Linked DNA regions of Homo sapiens: region 2 is linked to region 1. Evidence: fine-mapped expression QTL. A gene starts in region 1. The other region holds a variant in brackets. All regions are shown on one strand. Distances are from middle to middle.

Evidence for each region. PIP is the estimated chance that this variant, and not a neighbour inherited with it, causes the effect.
Region 2: its variant is fine-mapped to the expression of RIC3 in blood mononuclear cells (TOPMed, PIP above 0.99). The same link has a PIP of 0.9 or more in T cells, esophagus mucosa, esophagus muscle, gastroesophageal junction, left ventricle and sun-exposed skin.

Annotation. Positions count from the first base shown.
Region 1 is chr11:8,165,113-8,173,830 of GRCh38, forward strand. It overlaps RIC3 (RIC3 acetylcholine receptor chaperone), which reads right to left and starts at 3,913. Exons shown (of 6, transcript NM_001206671.4): 1 at 3,754-3,913. The coding sequence starts at 3,877. It overlaps RIC3-DT (RIC3 divergent transcript), which reads left to right and starts at 3,958. Exons shown (of 5, transcript NR_187234.1): 1 at 3,958-4,077; 2 at 4,773-4,876.
Region 2 is chr11:8,121,628-8,130,345 of GRCh38, forward strand. RIC3 (RIC3 acetylcholine receptor chaperone) reads right to left here. Exons shown (of 6, transcript NM_001206671.4): 5 at 5,032-5,180. Among named protein-coding and RNA genes, the nearest start is that of RIC3, 43 kb to the right of the region's middle. The variant T/C (reference allele first, on the strand shown) is at 4,238.

The DNA of each region.
Region 1 (8,718 bases):
ACATGTAATAACCATACAACCTAGAAATTCCACGCTTAGTTCCAGCCACACTGGAATGCTCACATTTTCCAAATGTATACACTCAAGAGAAATGAAAACATTAAGTCTACACAAAAATTTGTACACAGATATCAGTAGCAACATTATTCATAATAGCTAAAAGGCAAAAATTCAATGTCCATCAATTGATTAATGAATAAATGAAATGTGGTATATCCACACAATGAAATATTATTCAGCCATAAAAAAAGTACTGCTACATGCTACAACATGGATGAACCTTGAAAACATTATGCTAGTTAAAAGACGTCAGTCACAAAAGATCAGATATTATATGATTTCATTTATACCAAATGTCCAGAACAGGCAAATCTATAGAGACATAAAGTAGATGAGTGGTTGCCTAGGGCTGGAGGTGGGCTGGGGGATTTGTGGAGTAATAGCTAAAAAGTACAGGGTTTCTTTGGGGGCTGAAGAAATATTCTAAAATTGGTTGTAGTGATGGTTGTACAACTCTGAATATGCTGAAACCCAATAAATTGTACACTTTAAGTGGGTGAATTGTATGATATATAAATTAGATCTCAAGAAAGCTGTTATCAAAAAAAAAAAAGACTTCCCTCCTCTATGTTCTATGAAACCTGTTTTTTGGGGTTTTTTTTTTGTTTTGTTTTGTTTTTTTTTTTGGCAGAGTCTCACTGTGTTGCCCAGGCTGCAGTGCAGTTACACAATCACACCTCACTGTAGCCTTGACCTCCAAACTTCAAACGATCCTCCCACCTCAGCCTACAGAGTAGCTGGGGCTACAGGTGCACACCACCATGCCCAGCTAATTGAAAAAAAACAAACTTATTTTGTAGAGATGGGGGTCTTGTTATGTGGCCCAAGCTGGTCTCGAACTCCCAGGCTCAAGCAATCCTTCCACCACAGCCTTTCAAAATGCTGGGATTACAGGCATGAGCTGTCACACCTGGTTTATGAAACCCTTCTTAAGTCCCAATAACACTGACCATTGCATACATGTCTCCATTGTTCCCTGCGCAGACTTGAGTAACTGTGACTGACACTCTTGCATTTATCTGCTAACATGTCTGTTTTGCATTTATCTGTTGACATGTCTACTTTCCTTTACTAAACTGTGGCCGCCTCAAAGCATGGAGTTCGCTCATTTTTTCTTGGAATACATAGTGTCTATACACTATGTGCACAGTATGTGATATGGTACATCATAAATATTTGTTAAAAGACTATCTTAAAGGCTTTCATGTGGAAAGGGAACTGTGCTTGTTTCATGCACATCAATGGGCAAAAATGGAAGACATAACAACATGTATTTTTAAGAATTTTCAAATACTCAGGGTTATTCCTTTCTTCAAAGCAGGGATTTCTGGGTTCTGAGAATTCTCTGAATTGATACTGAAATTCTGAGTACAATAAGAGTATGTACCTTTTTCTAGAGAGAACATACAGTTTTAGGCTGAGTGCAGTTGCTCAAGCCTGTAATCCCAGCACTTTGGAAGGCTGAGGCAGAAGGATCACTTGAACCCACGAGTTCGACACCAGCCTGGACAATACAATGAGACCCCCATCTCAACCAAAAACAAAAAAAATTTTTTTTAATTAGCCAGGCATGGTGGCATGTGCCTGTAGTCCCAGTTACTTGGGAGGCTGAGGTGGGAGGATCAGTTGAGCCCTAGAAGTAGAGGCTGCAGTGAGCTGTGATCATGACTCTGCACTCCAGCCTGGGTGACAGAGTGAGACCCAGGGAAAGGGAAAGAGAAAGGGAAAGGGGGCCAGGAAGAGAGGAAAGGAGGGAGGGAGGGACAGAGGGAGGAAGGAGAGAGAAAGAAAGAAAATACATAGCTTTTATAAGATTCTCAATGGTGTATGTAACCCCAAAATGGTTAAGATTTTTTGCTGCAAGTTTCAGTTACTGGAATGTACCATTCAAGGTAAGTTTTTTCCTAGGTTATACTACTTCAGTAGCTTCTCCTTGTCAAAAACAGAATTTACAGTATTGGTAGCTTAATAATCTTAAAGTATTTATTGACTGCCCATTATATGCCAGGTACTGAAGAAACAGTGGTAAACAAGACAAAGTCCCTACCCTTGCAAACTTACATTCTAGAAGGTGAAGACAAAAAAACAAACAAGTAAACACTTAAGAATATTCCATATCATATAGTGATGCCTATCATGAAGAATATAAAACATGATAAAATAGAGAATGATGGGAGAAAAGAGTTATTTTAGTTAGTGTCATCAGGGGAAGTCTCTCTGAGGAGGTTTCATTTGAGCAGAAATTTGAATGATGAGAAGGGCACTGAGGGAAAAGCACAGCACTTCAGGAATAAAGAGAACTGAAGGTACAAAGATCCTAACATGAGAACACTGAATACCAACACTTGAGTTCTCAAGGGAACAACCCATGTCTAATCTCCACTCTACATTTTCTACAACGTTCAGAAGAGTGTCTCCCACTCACAGTCAATAGTACTTGTTCAAGATAATTCACCATAATGGAAAGTAAAAAAAAAAAAAAAAAAGTTTTCGAAGAATCTTCACTGTTCAGGATCATCATGAATTGACTCTTCTTCAAAGTAGACAATATCATTAGACAAAGCAGGTAAAAATCTTTGGGATTATTGCAATAAGACAGAAAGGAAAAAAAAAGAACAAATACGCAAAGATGTTTTAGAAGTCCGTCCCAAGTGGATAGTCTTACAAGCATAAAGATTATCAGGCAAATTCTGTAAACAGAATTATGTGTTCAACCTGCCCTCCACCCCTAAAGCTTGGTGCTTTGCATTTATAGTGTGTATGATGCTCAAGAGAATGGAACTACAGTCAATGTGCATAAAGCAGACGGAAGTGGATTACAGTTCAAAAGGAGCTGTCCAGCAATCAACAGTTTAAACATTACTGGAAGTGTTCAGACACCGTAAAATCATGTCTCAAAGATATTACAAGGATAATTTACAGGAGAAAGTTACCAGTAGAACTTCATGACCTATAGAAAACTGTTCTGGTTCCTTCTCCCAGCCTTCAGCACCGTGCCTTTACACTCATTCTGTAAAAGGCCCCAGTGCAGCTAAGAGGATGAATTTTTAAACACCACATACATCATGCCAACAACGAAGAATTAACAGATAAATACTGTTTCAATAAGGGGAACGTAATAATTTGTTCATAACCACCTCAGTAACTGAAACTGGGGTTATTAAAATCTTCAAGATATATTTTTAAAGGCACAAGAAGAGCCTGAAGCAGTGAGCGCCCAGCACCAAGTTGAAAAAACATAACGACTTAAGGTTTGCTGTACCAATTCCATTTGCCTTGATTTCGTACCAAGCGGCGCGTCAGAAAGTACACGGAAAACCTAAAGAGGGAAACCCAACTGGGAACCCTTGACTCAAAGCACGTGAACAAATGGTGACGAGATGAGTTAAGCCAGCGGGGTAAGAGAGAAGGGACTGCGCCTAAACGGGAGTACGCAAGGCCACCTAGAGGATGCACAGACCTGCATGCATACGTTCCTGACCCTTCCAGCAGCAGAACCATCTGGGCCGCCACCCGCTGATAACAACGGAACCGTGGGCATTGGCCCTTCAACGCCGTCTCGCCCGCCCTCTCCAGTCAGTTTGGTGGATATTTCGGTGAAGGCTGCAGACTCTCAGAGTCACCCCTCCCTCAAGCAGCGTTCTCCGTACTCTTCGGCGCCGGGAAGCTCAGAGGGAGCTGGCCTGCTCTTACCTTCAGGTGTCGGCGGCGGCTCCTGCCGCTTCCCGCGGGACAGGAAGGCCTTGGGCAGCAGCAGCGACAGAGCCAGGACAAGCCCAGAAGCCAGAGCGACTCTCTGCACTGTGGAGTACGCCATGACTGCTCACGGTGGTCGCAGGTGCAGACGCCAGCCGGAACCGGAACCGGAACCGGAGCACGGGCTGCCGCTCCCGACCGAACCGCGGGCGGCGCGGACGGCGTCGCGCGAGGGACAAGGTGCGCGAGGCGCACGCATCTTCACCTCCACTGTCGGGAGTTGACCTGCTCCTCCCGCGTGGTTACCCGTCGCTGTAAATGGTACCCTCGCCTTCCCGTTCATACTAACTAAAAACTCCTCCCTCACTCCCCATGTTCATCTTTTACTGAGTCCTGTGCATTCTACCGCCTACACATCCGGCGGTCGTGCCCGGATCTCTATCCCCACTTACCACCACTGCCCCCCACCCACCCGTAGATCACAACATCCAGTTTCTCCTCATCTCCATGATCTCGCTGTCTTCCAGCTTCCACTCATGCCCCTCGCATTCATTATCCGTCTGCAGCCACAGGTGATAATGCTAAAACACAAGACTAATTCTCTTTCTCTCCAGCTTAAACCTTTTAACTCTCCATTATCTTCAGAACAATAGTTAAACTCCTTTCTATAACCTCAACGCCCTGCATGATCTGGTCTTACCAATGCTCCTTCCAAACTGGATGATTTGCTATTTCTTTAGCATATTGCTTGTCTTCAGGGAAGCTTTGCTTGTCCTGTTCCCACTGCCTGGAAAATTCCTGACACCATCTCCAGTTGTCAAAAACTTCTCTGAAGAACAGCTTAAAAACACTGCTCTCTCGAAACGTTTTCAGTCAGCCTCTCCTTTCTCTACAATCCCACCGTTCTTTGTTACTCTCTTCATTCGTTCATTTAACATTATTTTAGTTTTTACTATGTATTAGACCCTCAACTTGGCACTACAGGGTCTGATGAATAAAATGGATTCCCTTTGTAGGACAGATAATTATCCAAACAAAAAAAATGCAGGAAATATTCTGGATCCCCGAGCAGTCTTCTCAACTGGTACGAGGAAAAGTCAAGAAAAGCCCCTTTGAGAAGGTGAAATTGAGTTAGCTGTTGAAAAATGAGTAACTTATAGGCAGACAGGTGGGAGGGGTTAGAAAGGTATTCCGGAAAAAGGAGGCCAAAAAAATAAAGGCAAATCTGGAAGCTTCCTGGTGTGTTCAGAAAGCTATTGGTAATTCATTTTGGCAGGGCCATAGAGTAGTGACAGGACACGAAGTGCACAAATATAAGCAGGAGCTACATTGTGAAAAGCTTAGGTAGAACTTCCAGTTAAACATGACAGATGTAACATATGCATTTATCTTTGCTTTCCTGGGACAGTGCCCAAAAAGGAAAATAAAGAAATAAAGTATATAAACTACAAGACTAAATGCAATGATAGAAAACATGACAGCAGATGAGAAATGTCAATTTTGTAAGACGCACACAACACTGTCCAATAGACACATAATACCAGCCACATATGTAATTTAAATTTTTCCAGTAGCCACATTTAAAAAGTAAAAATAAGTAAAATTTATTTTAATAATATTTTAAACCAAGATAGCAAAAATATTTCAAATTTTATCAGCACGATAGTGTGGCTCGTTGGCGCCCACAGTAGACAGTGCAGGTGTAGAGCATAAAAAGTTAAATGCCTGTGGACTGAAAGCCTGTAAGGAGTGAACTAATTTGCCCCTCAGAACCCATGCTCTTAAGAATTGGAGGTACTGGGTTCCTTTAAAGCCAAGGGTGCAGAGTGGGTCTGAATGAAGGATTGGCTGGAAATCTGATTAAAAAGCAGTTGAGACTGGGCACAGTGGCTCACACCTATAATCCCAGGGCTTTGGGAGGCCAAGGCTGGAGGATGGCTTGAGGCCAAGAGTTCAAGGCCAGCCTGGGCAACATAGGGAGAGCCCTAATCTCTACCAAAAAAATGTAAAAAATTAACCAGGCATGGTGGTGTGCACCTGTAGTCCCAACTACTCAGGAAGCTGAGGTGGGAAGATCACTTGAGCCCAAGAGTTTGAGGCTGCAGTGAGCTATGATTGTGTGAAACCACAATTAATTATGATATATAAGATGATAATAATGCCTGAATGAAGCCAGTAGGGGCACCCACTCCAGCCAGGGTGACAGAGTGAGACCCTGTCTCTAAAAAAAAATTGTTTGATTTTTTTAAAGCAATGGATATCTTCTGAATCTCTTTCCTTGATTCATGCAGCCAGATGGGTGCCACTGCTGGCTTCACTCGGGCATTATTATCATTGATGTTATTAACATCACTAAAAGTTAGAGTACTAATTATGTTTTAGGCATCTTACATATCATAATTATTCCTCCCAATAACTTCAAGAGGTAAGCAATATTATTATATACCCATTTCACAGGTAAGAAAATGGAGCCCCAGAAAACATAATTTACTTGCCAACAATTACACAGTATAAACTGGATGCTATGATTTGAACACAGGCATGCTTACTCAAGAATTTGCCCTCTTAGCTACCAGGTTTACTGTCTGGGGAGGTTTAGTCAGAAAACCTCTGGACTCCTGGACTATAGATGCAGCTTAGGGAGGAGGTGACTAATGGGATGTGGTCTCTAAGAAATACAGAGGGGTCTGGAATGACCACACTCCCCCCCGCCCTCCGCCACCAAATTCTAGCTTGGGTAAATGGTAGACATTAATTCTATATAACATGATTTTAAGAATAGAAGAATCAGGTTTGTGAGAAAGATGAAGAGTTCAGATTTTGACTAGCTGAATTTGAAGTTCCATGAAATATCCAAGTAGAAATATCCAGTTGGATATATGGGCCTGGAGCTCAGAAGAGATGTTTGGGCTAGAAACAATAGGAAATCATCAGCCCATCTATAGTAAATGAAGTCTAGGAGAAGATGGCATTAGTGAGAGTGCTCATGTGAAGTTGTAAGAAGCCACAATGGAAACCTAGGTCACAACATTATGTTGAAGTTCCCATGTATGAGGACAGAAATGAGGTGGGAAATAGTGATCCAAGTGTTAAAATCTTTAATGAATGTGGAGTTACTACAAGGTTGGAAGGTGACAGGAACAGAAGAAGTAATGGGCAGCCAGATGACATGCTCTTCTAAGGAGCTGTGTTTTTTTTTAATTGTTTAAAAATTTTTATTTATTTATTTATTTATTTATTTATTTTTGAGATGGAGTCTTGCTCTGTTGCCCAGGCTGGAGTGCAGTGGTGCAATCTCGGCTCACTACAAGCTCCGCCTCCTGGCTTCACGCCATTCTCCTGCCTCAGCCTCCCAAGTAGCAGGGACCACAGGTGCCCGCCACCACGCCCGGCTAATTTTTTTGTTGTATTTTTAGTAGAGATGGGGTTTCACTATGTTAGCCAGGATGGTCTCGATCCTTGTTATGCACCCACCTCAGCCTCCCAAAGTGCTGGGATTACAGGCATGAGCCACAGCGCCTGGCCAGGAGCTATGGTTTTTAAAGGAAGAAGAGGAAGAAGCAATTTGGAAGCAGCAAGGGGAAACAAGTTGGGCATCTATTCTATTCCCAGGCTTTAAGCTGTGGGAAGAAAAATAGCTCTTACTTTGGGAGATCTGCAAGGGAAACAGAACCCAGAGGCAACAGCCTAGTTTTCATTAGAGGAAGACAGGCCGGGCGCAGTGGCTTATGTCTGTAATCCCAGCACTTTGGGAGGCCAAGGGGGGCGGATCACGAGGTCAAGAAATCAAGACCATCCTGGCCAACATGCTGAAACCCACCTCTACTAAAAATACAAAAATTAGCTGGGCGTGATGACATGCGCCTGTAATCCCAGCTACTTGGGAGGCTGAGGCAGGAGAATCGCTTGAACCCAGGAGGCAGAGGTCGCAGTGAGCTGAGATCGCGCCACTGCACTCCAGCCTGGTGACAGAGTGAGACTCCATCTCAAAATAAAAAAAAAAGAAAAAAGAAGAAGAAAGTTAAGAGAAACTTCAAAGAAGTCAAGGATATAGGAGTTTTTCTGATGATAGCTCTTGACTCTATACAGCACGGTAAGTGGAAGCTTTGGAAGTCAGAAATGGAGTCAAAGTAAAATATGAAGTGAGCAGGATGGAGATGAGGGGCAGTGTGCAAATTGATGACCTTGGGGGCTTGGAATTTAGATGGTGGCCAAGGTAAATGGGCAGAGATCGTGATCTCATTAGTCCTAGAAGTGGCCTAGAGAAAGGTGAAAACACAGTTATAGTACAGAGTATTTGGCTTGGAACATATTCATTGTTGCAGTCAGTTGGGATGTGCACCTGGAAGACATGGAAGCCTCCTTAAGGCGACAGAGCTGGTAGGCAGCTCATGGAGCTGGGGCAGCTTGGAGTGGGACCTGGGATGGCTGCTCTCTCTGGTGGCTGGTGGTATAACATCAGAGCTGGGAGTGCACTAAAATTGAAGATCTTAAGGGTTTAGGTTTTCCAATAAAGTATTGGTAGGGGGCTGGGCGTGGTGGCTTAGGCCTATAATCCTAGCACTTTGGGAGGCCTAGGTGGGTGGATCACCTGAGGTCAGGAGTTCGAGACCAGCCTGGCCAACGTGTTGAAACCCCATCTCTACTAAAAATACAAAAATTAGCCAGGCATGGTGGTGCATGCCAGTAATCCCAGCCATCCAGGAGGCTGAGGCAGGAGAACGGCTTGAACCCAGGAGGCAGAGGTTGCAGTGAGTCGAGATTATGCCACTGCACTCCAGCCTTGATGACAGAGCGAGAGTCTGCTTCAAAAAAAAAAAAAAAAAAGTAACGATAGGGAATTCAGATAAAAAATCAAAAGTCTAATGGCTATAGGCTGAAGAAGGAGCAAATGACAAGGAAGTAGAGATGGCAAGTACAGCCCACTGTATATGGAGCTGGCATGAAAAGAAGGGATAAAAG
Region 2 (8,718 bases), 43 kb before region 1:
ATCACTTGAACCCAGGAGGCAGAGGTTGCAGGGAGCAGATATCAAGCTACAGCACTCCAACTTGGGCAAAAAAGCAAGCAAGCCTCTGTCTCAAAAAAAATAATAATAACTTTTTTCAATCATATTTGTTATAAATATTTTTCCAGTTTATTCTTGTCTTTTAAACTGTGTGATATTCTCTGATCTGCAGAAGGTAAAAGTTTTATGTATTTAAGCTACACAATCTTTTCCCTTAGAATTTGTGTTGCTTTTAAAAAAATTAACCTTTTTTATTTTGAGATAATTATAGATTCACAGGCAGCATATAAGAAATAATACAAGCCAGGCACAGTGGCATGCACCTGGAGTCCCAGCTACTCAGGAGGCTGAGGTGGGAGGATCGCCTGAGTCCCAGCATGGGCAACATGGTTAAGACTCTATCCCTTTAAAAAATACTACTACTAGTAATACAGAAATCCCATGTACCCTTTATCCAGTTTCTCCCAAAGGCAACATCTAGCAAAACTGTACTACAATATAACAACCAGGATATTAATATTGATATAGTCAGTATACAGAACATTTTCCATCACCACAAGGACCCCTTATGTTGCCCTTTCATGGCACACTCACTCTTCCCTACTCCTATTCCCCTCTTAACTCCTAGCAACAACTAATCAGTCCTCTATTTCTATAATATTGCCACGTCAATTATAAATGGAATCATATAGTATGTAACCTTTGGGAATTAGTTTTTTCCCCCTACTCAGCATAATTCTCTGGAAATTCATCTAGGTTGTTGTATATATAGTTCATTCCTTTTTATTGCTAAGTGTATACCACAGTGTGTATATATATATGTACCACAGTTTATTCACCTCCTAAAAGACATATGGGTTGTTTCCAGTTCTTGGCTATTGAAATTAAGCTGCTATAAATATTCACAAAGACTCATATGCAAAAGTTCATAGCTACTTGAGTCATAAGAGTGCAAAGCTAGGAACAACCCAAATGTTCCTCAACTGGTGAATGGACAAATTATGGTATAAGCATATAACTAAATAATTAGCCCTAGAATAAAGGCTGTTCTGGACCCAAACTAAAAAATGTTAAAGCTTTAAAGGATTCAACTATTTTCTACTAACCTAAATGCTAACCTAATAAATCCAACACTATTTAAAGTACTAAAACAAAATCCAGCACCTAACAATGCAAAATTTGTAATATCCATCATCCAATCAAAACCTACCAGGTATGCAAAAAAAAAAAAAAAAAAAAAAGGGAAATTAGGACCCATTACCAGGAGAAAAATTAGTCAACAGAAACATTCCCAGAAATGGCATGGATGATGAAATTAGCAATTAAAACAGTCAAGAAAGCTATTACAGATATGAATCATACGTTTAAGAGAGTAAAATATGAATAAATGAGACATAAAAAAGACCCAAATGAAACTTCTAGAGATGATAATGTCTGAAATTAAAAAACACTGAATAAGATTAACAGTGGGTTAGATACAGTAGAAGAAGACATCAATAAACCTGAAGACATAGCAAGAAAAACTATTCAAAACTAAGCATGGTAAGAAAAAAAAAAGTGAACAGAACTCACATGACCTGTGGGGCAATATCAAACATATATGCAACTGGAGAGCCAGAAGGAAATAAAAGAGAGACAAAAAGACACAGATCATTAATAAAATAATGGCCAAAAATATAGATCATGGGTCTAAGCTTCCACCTTGAGAAACTAGAGAAAGGCAAATTAAACCAAAAGTACCAGAAAGAAAGAAACACAAGTCAATGAAATAAGAAACAAACAAACAAAAAGAAACCAAATTACAGTTCTCTGAAAAGATCAACAAGGATGATAAACCTCTGGGCAGCTTGATCAGGAAAAGAAACAAATTACCAGGATCAAGAATAGAAGAGGGTGCACCCTACAGATCTTACGTATATTAAATGGATAATTAGACTATATTATGAACAACTTTATACTAACAATAAAGTTGACAATATGGATGAACTATGTAAATTCCTTGAAAGATACAAACTATCAAAAGTTCACTCAAGAAGTGAATGAACGAATAGCACTATATCCATAAAATACATTAAATTCATAGACATCTTCCCACAAATAAAACTCCAGGCCAACTGGGCACAGTGGCTCATGCCTATAATCCCAGCATTTTGGAGGCCAAGACCAGAAGATTGCTTAAGAGCAGGAGTTCAAGACCAGGCATGAGTAGCTGGGCCTACAGGCATGCACCACCACGCCTGGCTAATTTTTTAAATTTAAAAAATTGAAAAATTAAAAAATTAGCCAGGCATGGTAGTGCATGCCTGTAGGCTCAGCTACTGAGGCTGAGGTGGGAGGGTTGCTTGAGCCCAGGAGATCAAACAGTGAGCCATGATCACGTGCCACTGTACTCCAGCCTGGGCAACAGGGCAAGACCCTGAAAAAAAAAAGAAAGAAAGAAAGAAAAAGAAAAAGAAAAAGAGAAAGCAAGCAAGCAAGCAAGCAAGCAAGCAAGCAACTCCAGACCAAGATAATATCACTGGAGAATTCCACATAACTTTTATGGAATAAATAACAGTAACTCTATGAAACTTTTCCAGAAAATAGAAAAAGGAACACATCCCAATGCATTTTATGAGGCCAGGATTACCCTGAAATCAAAACCAAAGAAATTACAGGAAAAGAAAATCACAGACCAATATCCCTCACATATGCAAGACCTATACACTGGAAACTACAACACACTGCTGAGAGAACTTTTAAAAGATCTAAATAAATGGTGAGATATAAGACGTTCATGAACTAGAAGATTCAATATCGTTACAGTATTGATTCTTCCAAATTGATCTAAAGATTCAAAGCAGTACCAATCAAAATCCCATCAGGCTTTTTCATAAAAACTGACAAACTGATTGTAAATTTATCTGAAATTGTGAAGGAAATAGCCAAAATAATCTTGGGAAAAAAAATCTGAACAACTTGAACTACCCAAAATAAAGACTTACTATAAAGACATAGTAATAAGGACCGTGTGCTATTGGTACAAGTAGAGACATACAGATCAATGGAACAGAATAGAGCCCAGAAGAGACAAGCACACGCATGGTCAACTGGTTTGTCAAGCAAATGTCAAGCTAATTAAATGTAACAAAAGAAGCTGAACAATTGGGTATTTGATATGGAAAAAAATAAACCTCAGTCCTGACACCTCAGATCATCTATAAAGGTTAACTCAAAATAGATCACAGGCCTAAATGTAAAAGCTAAAACTGTAGAATTTCTAGAAAACATGGGAATTGGGAAACCTTGGGTTAGCCAAATATTTCTTAAACAGAACATAAAAAATGGGCTGGGCACGGCGGCTCACACCTGTAATCCCAGCACTTTGGGATGCCGAAGTGGGTGGATCACAAGGTCAGGAGATCAAGACCATCCTGGCTAACATGGTGAAACCCCGTCTCTACTAAAAATACAAAAAAATTAGCCAGGCATGGTGGCAGGCGCCTGTAGTCCCAGCTACTAGGGAGGCTGAGGCAGGAGGATGGCATGAACCTGGGAGGTGGAGCTTACAGTGAGCCGAGATGGCACCACTGCACTCCGGCCTGGGTGACAGAGCAAGACTCTGTCTCAAAAAAAAAAAAAAAGTAAATCGTAAAGAAAAAAATGGTTAAGTTGGACTTCATCAAAATTTAAAACTTCTACTCTTTGAAAGATGCTGTTAAGAAAATATAAAGGCAAGCTACAGAAAATATTTGCAAAATACAGAAATGATAAAGAATTTGTACTCGGAATATATACAGAACTCTTGCAACCCAACAAGAACCTAATCAACCCAATTTAAAAATTGGCAAACTACTTGAACAGACACTTCAAAGATATGCAGATGGCAAATAAGCACATGAAAAAATGTTCATCATCATTAGTCACTGGAGAAAGGTAAATTAAAGTCACAATTAAGGTATCATTTTACACTCACTAGAATGGATAAAATTAAAAAGACTGACAAGACAAAGTGTTACCAAGGATGTGGAGGAACTTTAATTGCCATACACCGCTGGTGGGAAGGGAAAAAGTAGACCTACTTAGGAAAGCAGGTTGACAGTTTCTAATAAAGTTAAACAGGTGGCCGGGCGCGGTGGCCCACAGGCCCACACCTATAATCCCAGCACTTTGAGGGGCTGAGGCAGGCAGATCACTTGAGGTCAGGAGTTTGAGACCAGCCTGGCCAACATGGTGAAAC[T/C]CCGTCTCTACTAAAAATACAAAAATTATTCAGGTGTGGTGCCAGGCACCTGTAATCTCAGCTACTTGGGAGGCTGAGGCAGGAGAATCACTTGAACCCACGAGGTAGAGGTTGCAGCGAGCTGAGATTGCTCTGCAAACTCCAGCCTGGGCGACAAAGTGAGACTGTCTTGAAAAACAAAAACAAAGTTAAATATACAATTACCTTAAACCCAAAAATCTCACTCCTAGGTATAGACTCAAAAGAAATACAAATATATGTTCAAACAAAGACTCATATGCAAAAGTTCATAGCTGCTTGAGTCATAAGAGTGCAAAGCTAGGAATAACCCAAACGCTCCTCAACTGGTGAATGGACAAACAAATTATGGTATAAGTATATAACTGACTACTACTCAGCAAGAAAAAAATTTCAGATACACTCAATAACAAACATGAATGTCAAAAGTATTACGCTAAATCAAAGAAGCCAATGAGTATATGCAGTATGATCACTTACATAGAAAAGGCAAAACTAAAGGCACAGAAAGCACTTCAGTTGTTTCCAGGGGCAGGAGAAGGGCATTAGCTACAAAGGGGGAGCTTTCTGGAGTAATGGAAATGTTCTTTATCAAAATTACGGTGTGATTACACAAACTCTATATATTTGTCAAAACTCATCCAACCGTACATTTAAAACTGGTTAATATTACTGTTTATATATTATACCTCAATAATGAAGCTGATTTTTTAAAAATCTGTAACATCTCTTTTCTGGGCTGACAGCTAACAAAAAAATGAGAAGACACTGTTTACCTTCCCAGTCCTCCATGTAAGGGGCCTCCTCAGCTTCTTTCTCTGGAGAAAATCTGTCAATGAATTTTCCTTCTTTCATGACCCTGGTGATTTCTCGGAGCTGATGTAGCAACCGTTTCTCTTGGTCAGAAGTCACAGTCTGTGCTCTGCTTAGAAATATCAGACAATCCAACCATTTAGTGGTAAATACTCCTAGGCAATGGACGTAAACATCACTATGGTCTGTCTGGGTACTGGAATAGAAAGTGCAATTGCAGCAGATAATTATTCTAGGAATTGATCCTCCAACTGCATAGCTGGGAACTAGAGATGTTAGTTCAATGCTTTGATTTTATAAATGGGAAAATTAAAGCCCAGAATAGATCAAGTGATTGCCCAAGGTCCCGAAATTAGTTAATGTCAATACTAGGACCAGACCCCAGATGTCTCAGCTTTTAGTTCAGTGTTTTTTCAGGGTATGTCAATGCCCTGATTCTCTAATCGCCTAACAATTTCACTGCTACTCACATTACTCCATTTACTACAAGCCACTTTTCTCTGAAGCAAGGTCATCAAAGGAAAACGTTCTGGGCCATTAGCATCAACCGGGGAAAATTTATGCTACTAGAATCACCAGGCTTAATTTACGTGTGCAGGTATAAGGATATATTCTAAAATTTCAGAGGTGGGTGATTTTGAAAATTCAATCATCTAGACTAGAGAAATTGAGGAAACTGGGGTCCACAGAGGAGAAATATTGTTTATATATTCATACTGCCACTTAATGAAGCACTATAACTAAAACCACCCAGGCTTCTGATTGCATTCTGCGCAATTCTTGAAGCACAGTGCTCAAGTTCCACATTTTGGAAAACCTGGTTTGAATCCCAACTTACTTGTGTGGTTCTGGCAAATATCTGCAAAAATAACATGAGACTCAAGGATAACAGTTTGATTGTTTTCTTCTAGAGGAAAGCACTGCATCACACTGACAGGCAAACAAGGTCCTACTTAGAAGACTGATAACTATCTGCTTTGAGACCAGTTTTATCTAGCAGCAGGATTTAATGGAGGCTACTTATTCTCTTCTTAAAACCCAGACACAAGTTAATACAACACTTACAAAGGAAAAATGATGTACTATGTACTAGCCTGTGGAGATGGTCGTCTATTTTTCTAACAGCCAGTTCTGAGCCTGCATTCATTTCTCTGCTCAGCCTAACTTTAGCCTTAATGACTAATAAGGAAAATGAAAAGAGTATTTCTCCTTTCAACATGAAGATAGTAACTGAGGAAAATGAACATTACCAGAGACCTCAGTGAAAGGAAAATGGAAAACACCACGAGCTCCACTTCTTCCACACCAAGCAGCTTCAAAGCCATGAACTACTAAAGATGCCTGTCTGTTCCACATTCAGCTAAAATCCTATACTTACAGGGCCTCTGATAGCTCTATTCTTCCCATCAGTACAGGAGTCCTGACTCTCCACAACTGCTCGTGTGTCCCACATAACCCCTATTTCTTACTGTTAAAACAACCCACTTTGTGTGAGGCTTCTGGGGCAGACTAGAAGAGCTTACCTGCTTATCACAAACTCTTGTCTCTTCAGGCGGCACATGTTACTTTTCCAGACTGTACGCAGGGCATTCTGATCTTCAATGAATGAAACAGTCTTAATTCTGTTTCCTAAGTCATGGGAAATCAGAAGCCCTTATCCTAAAAGAGGATGGGTAGACTACAGGAAGCAGGAACAGACAAGAGCTTTCCCAGAGAACTCCAAACCAAAGCATCCTCATTTCACTCTTAACAAGTATACTTTTATTGTCCATATCATGCATTATGCATTAATCATGGTCTACCTTATGACATCTTCTGAATTTATTGCAATGAATATTTTCATGGATTCCTTATCATCTCAACTTGGTTTGATACTCCTAGAGGGCAGTAATAATTAAGTTGACAACAGTATAGACACAATGCCATGATCACTGTTAAGAGCTCAATAATTACGTGTTAGTTTGATTGATCCCCATTTCCTCACCATCCATTATTTTCTTCCACCTCCCTGAATTCTGGATTCCGTTCTATCATTTTATGAAAAGTTGCAAAAACTTTTTTTTTTTTTTTTTTTTTTTTGAGATGGAGTCTCGCTGTCGCCCAGGCTGGAGTGCAGTGGCGCCACCTCAGCTCACTGCAAGCTCCGCCTCCCGGGTTCACGCCATTCTCCTGCCTCAGCCTCCCGCATAGCTGGGACTACAGGCGCCAGCCACCTCGCCTGGCTAATTTTTTGTATTTTTAGTAGAGACGGGGTTTCACCGTGTTAGCCAGGATGGTCTCAATCTCCTGACCTCGTGATCCGCCCGCCTCGGCCTCCCAAAGTGCTGGGATTACAGGCGTGAGCCACAGCGCCCGGCCAAAAACTTTTACTCCTAAGTGATTTTTCACTTTACTAAGTCCAAGGGTCTTTTTCTCACATTTCATTCTTCTTGACTTCTCTATACCATAGACCATCCTCTGCTTGAAACCTCCTCCTCCCTTAGCTATTGAGACATTTGTATTCTCCCACTTCTTTAAACATTCCTTTTATCTATGATCCTGACTCACTTTTTTCCACCCACCTCCCAAAACAATTTTCCCAAGGCTCAATCCTAGGACTCTCATTTCTCCATTCTTATAATCATGCCCTCAGGAAGTTGACCCAGTATTACAGATTAGACCATCACCTCTATAGAAAAGATGTCCTAATGCTACTATTAATCTTGACTTTCCACACAAATTCCTGTCTCACAACTCCAGTTATTTCCTGGGCATTTCCACTTGGAGGCCTTGGAACTATGTTAAAGTTAACCTTAAATTCACCTCTTGAAACCAGGTCCCAGTTGGCTCAGGATCGTGAGCAACTGCATGAACAGGAAGACCAGAAGAGGCTGAGTATGGAAGATTCTAAGATGATAGAAAAATAAAAGGTCACAGTTGGGAAACACCCTCACCAGAATTTTGAATTCTATAAGCCCAGCAGAATCATCAAGTTCCAAATGCAAGAGTTAAGTACAGAGAATTAAATAGATGTTAATACCATTCATGGTTAGAACAGAACTCAGACCAGTAAAAGATTTCAGGATACTGCAGCAGAGTCTGATATGCCTCAAAGATTTGGTGATCTCACCTTTCTCCATGGAGATTTTCTCCATCTCTCACTCCCAGCCAATGACTTCCAAACCTGAGCCCTTTGCTCTGACCTCAAGAACCAAATTTCCTATTGCTGTTTCATATTATACATGGATGTTCTGATGGCATCTCAGACACACTCAGTGCTGAACTTATGATCCCAACTCCAAAGCCTTATGTACTTTCCCTTCTTTTGTATTTTATCTTAGTTAATGCCATAATCTTCCTTCCAGTTTGGCTGTAAATCTCCAATGCATCTTTATTTATTTATTCTTCTCCATTACTCTTATCTGGTTAGTAGTTTTCTTTTGGGGAACCAACTCCTCTTCCATTCATAGTGCAAAGATTAACGTGAGCCATCCATCCCCTACCTCTCCTTCAAGGGTGGCCATGTGACCCACTACTAATTATCACATTCCATCCCCTTGACTGCAGGGATTGATTCAGGGATAGATATAGGACCCAAGTTGGGCCAACTGTACTTTTGGACCTTGAACACAGTGAAGCCTGAACTGAATACTTTTGACATTAAATTCATC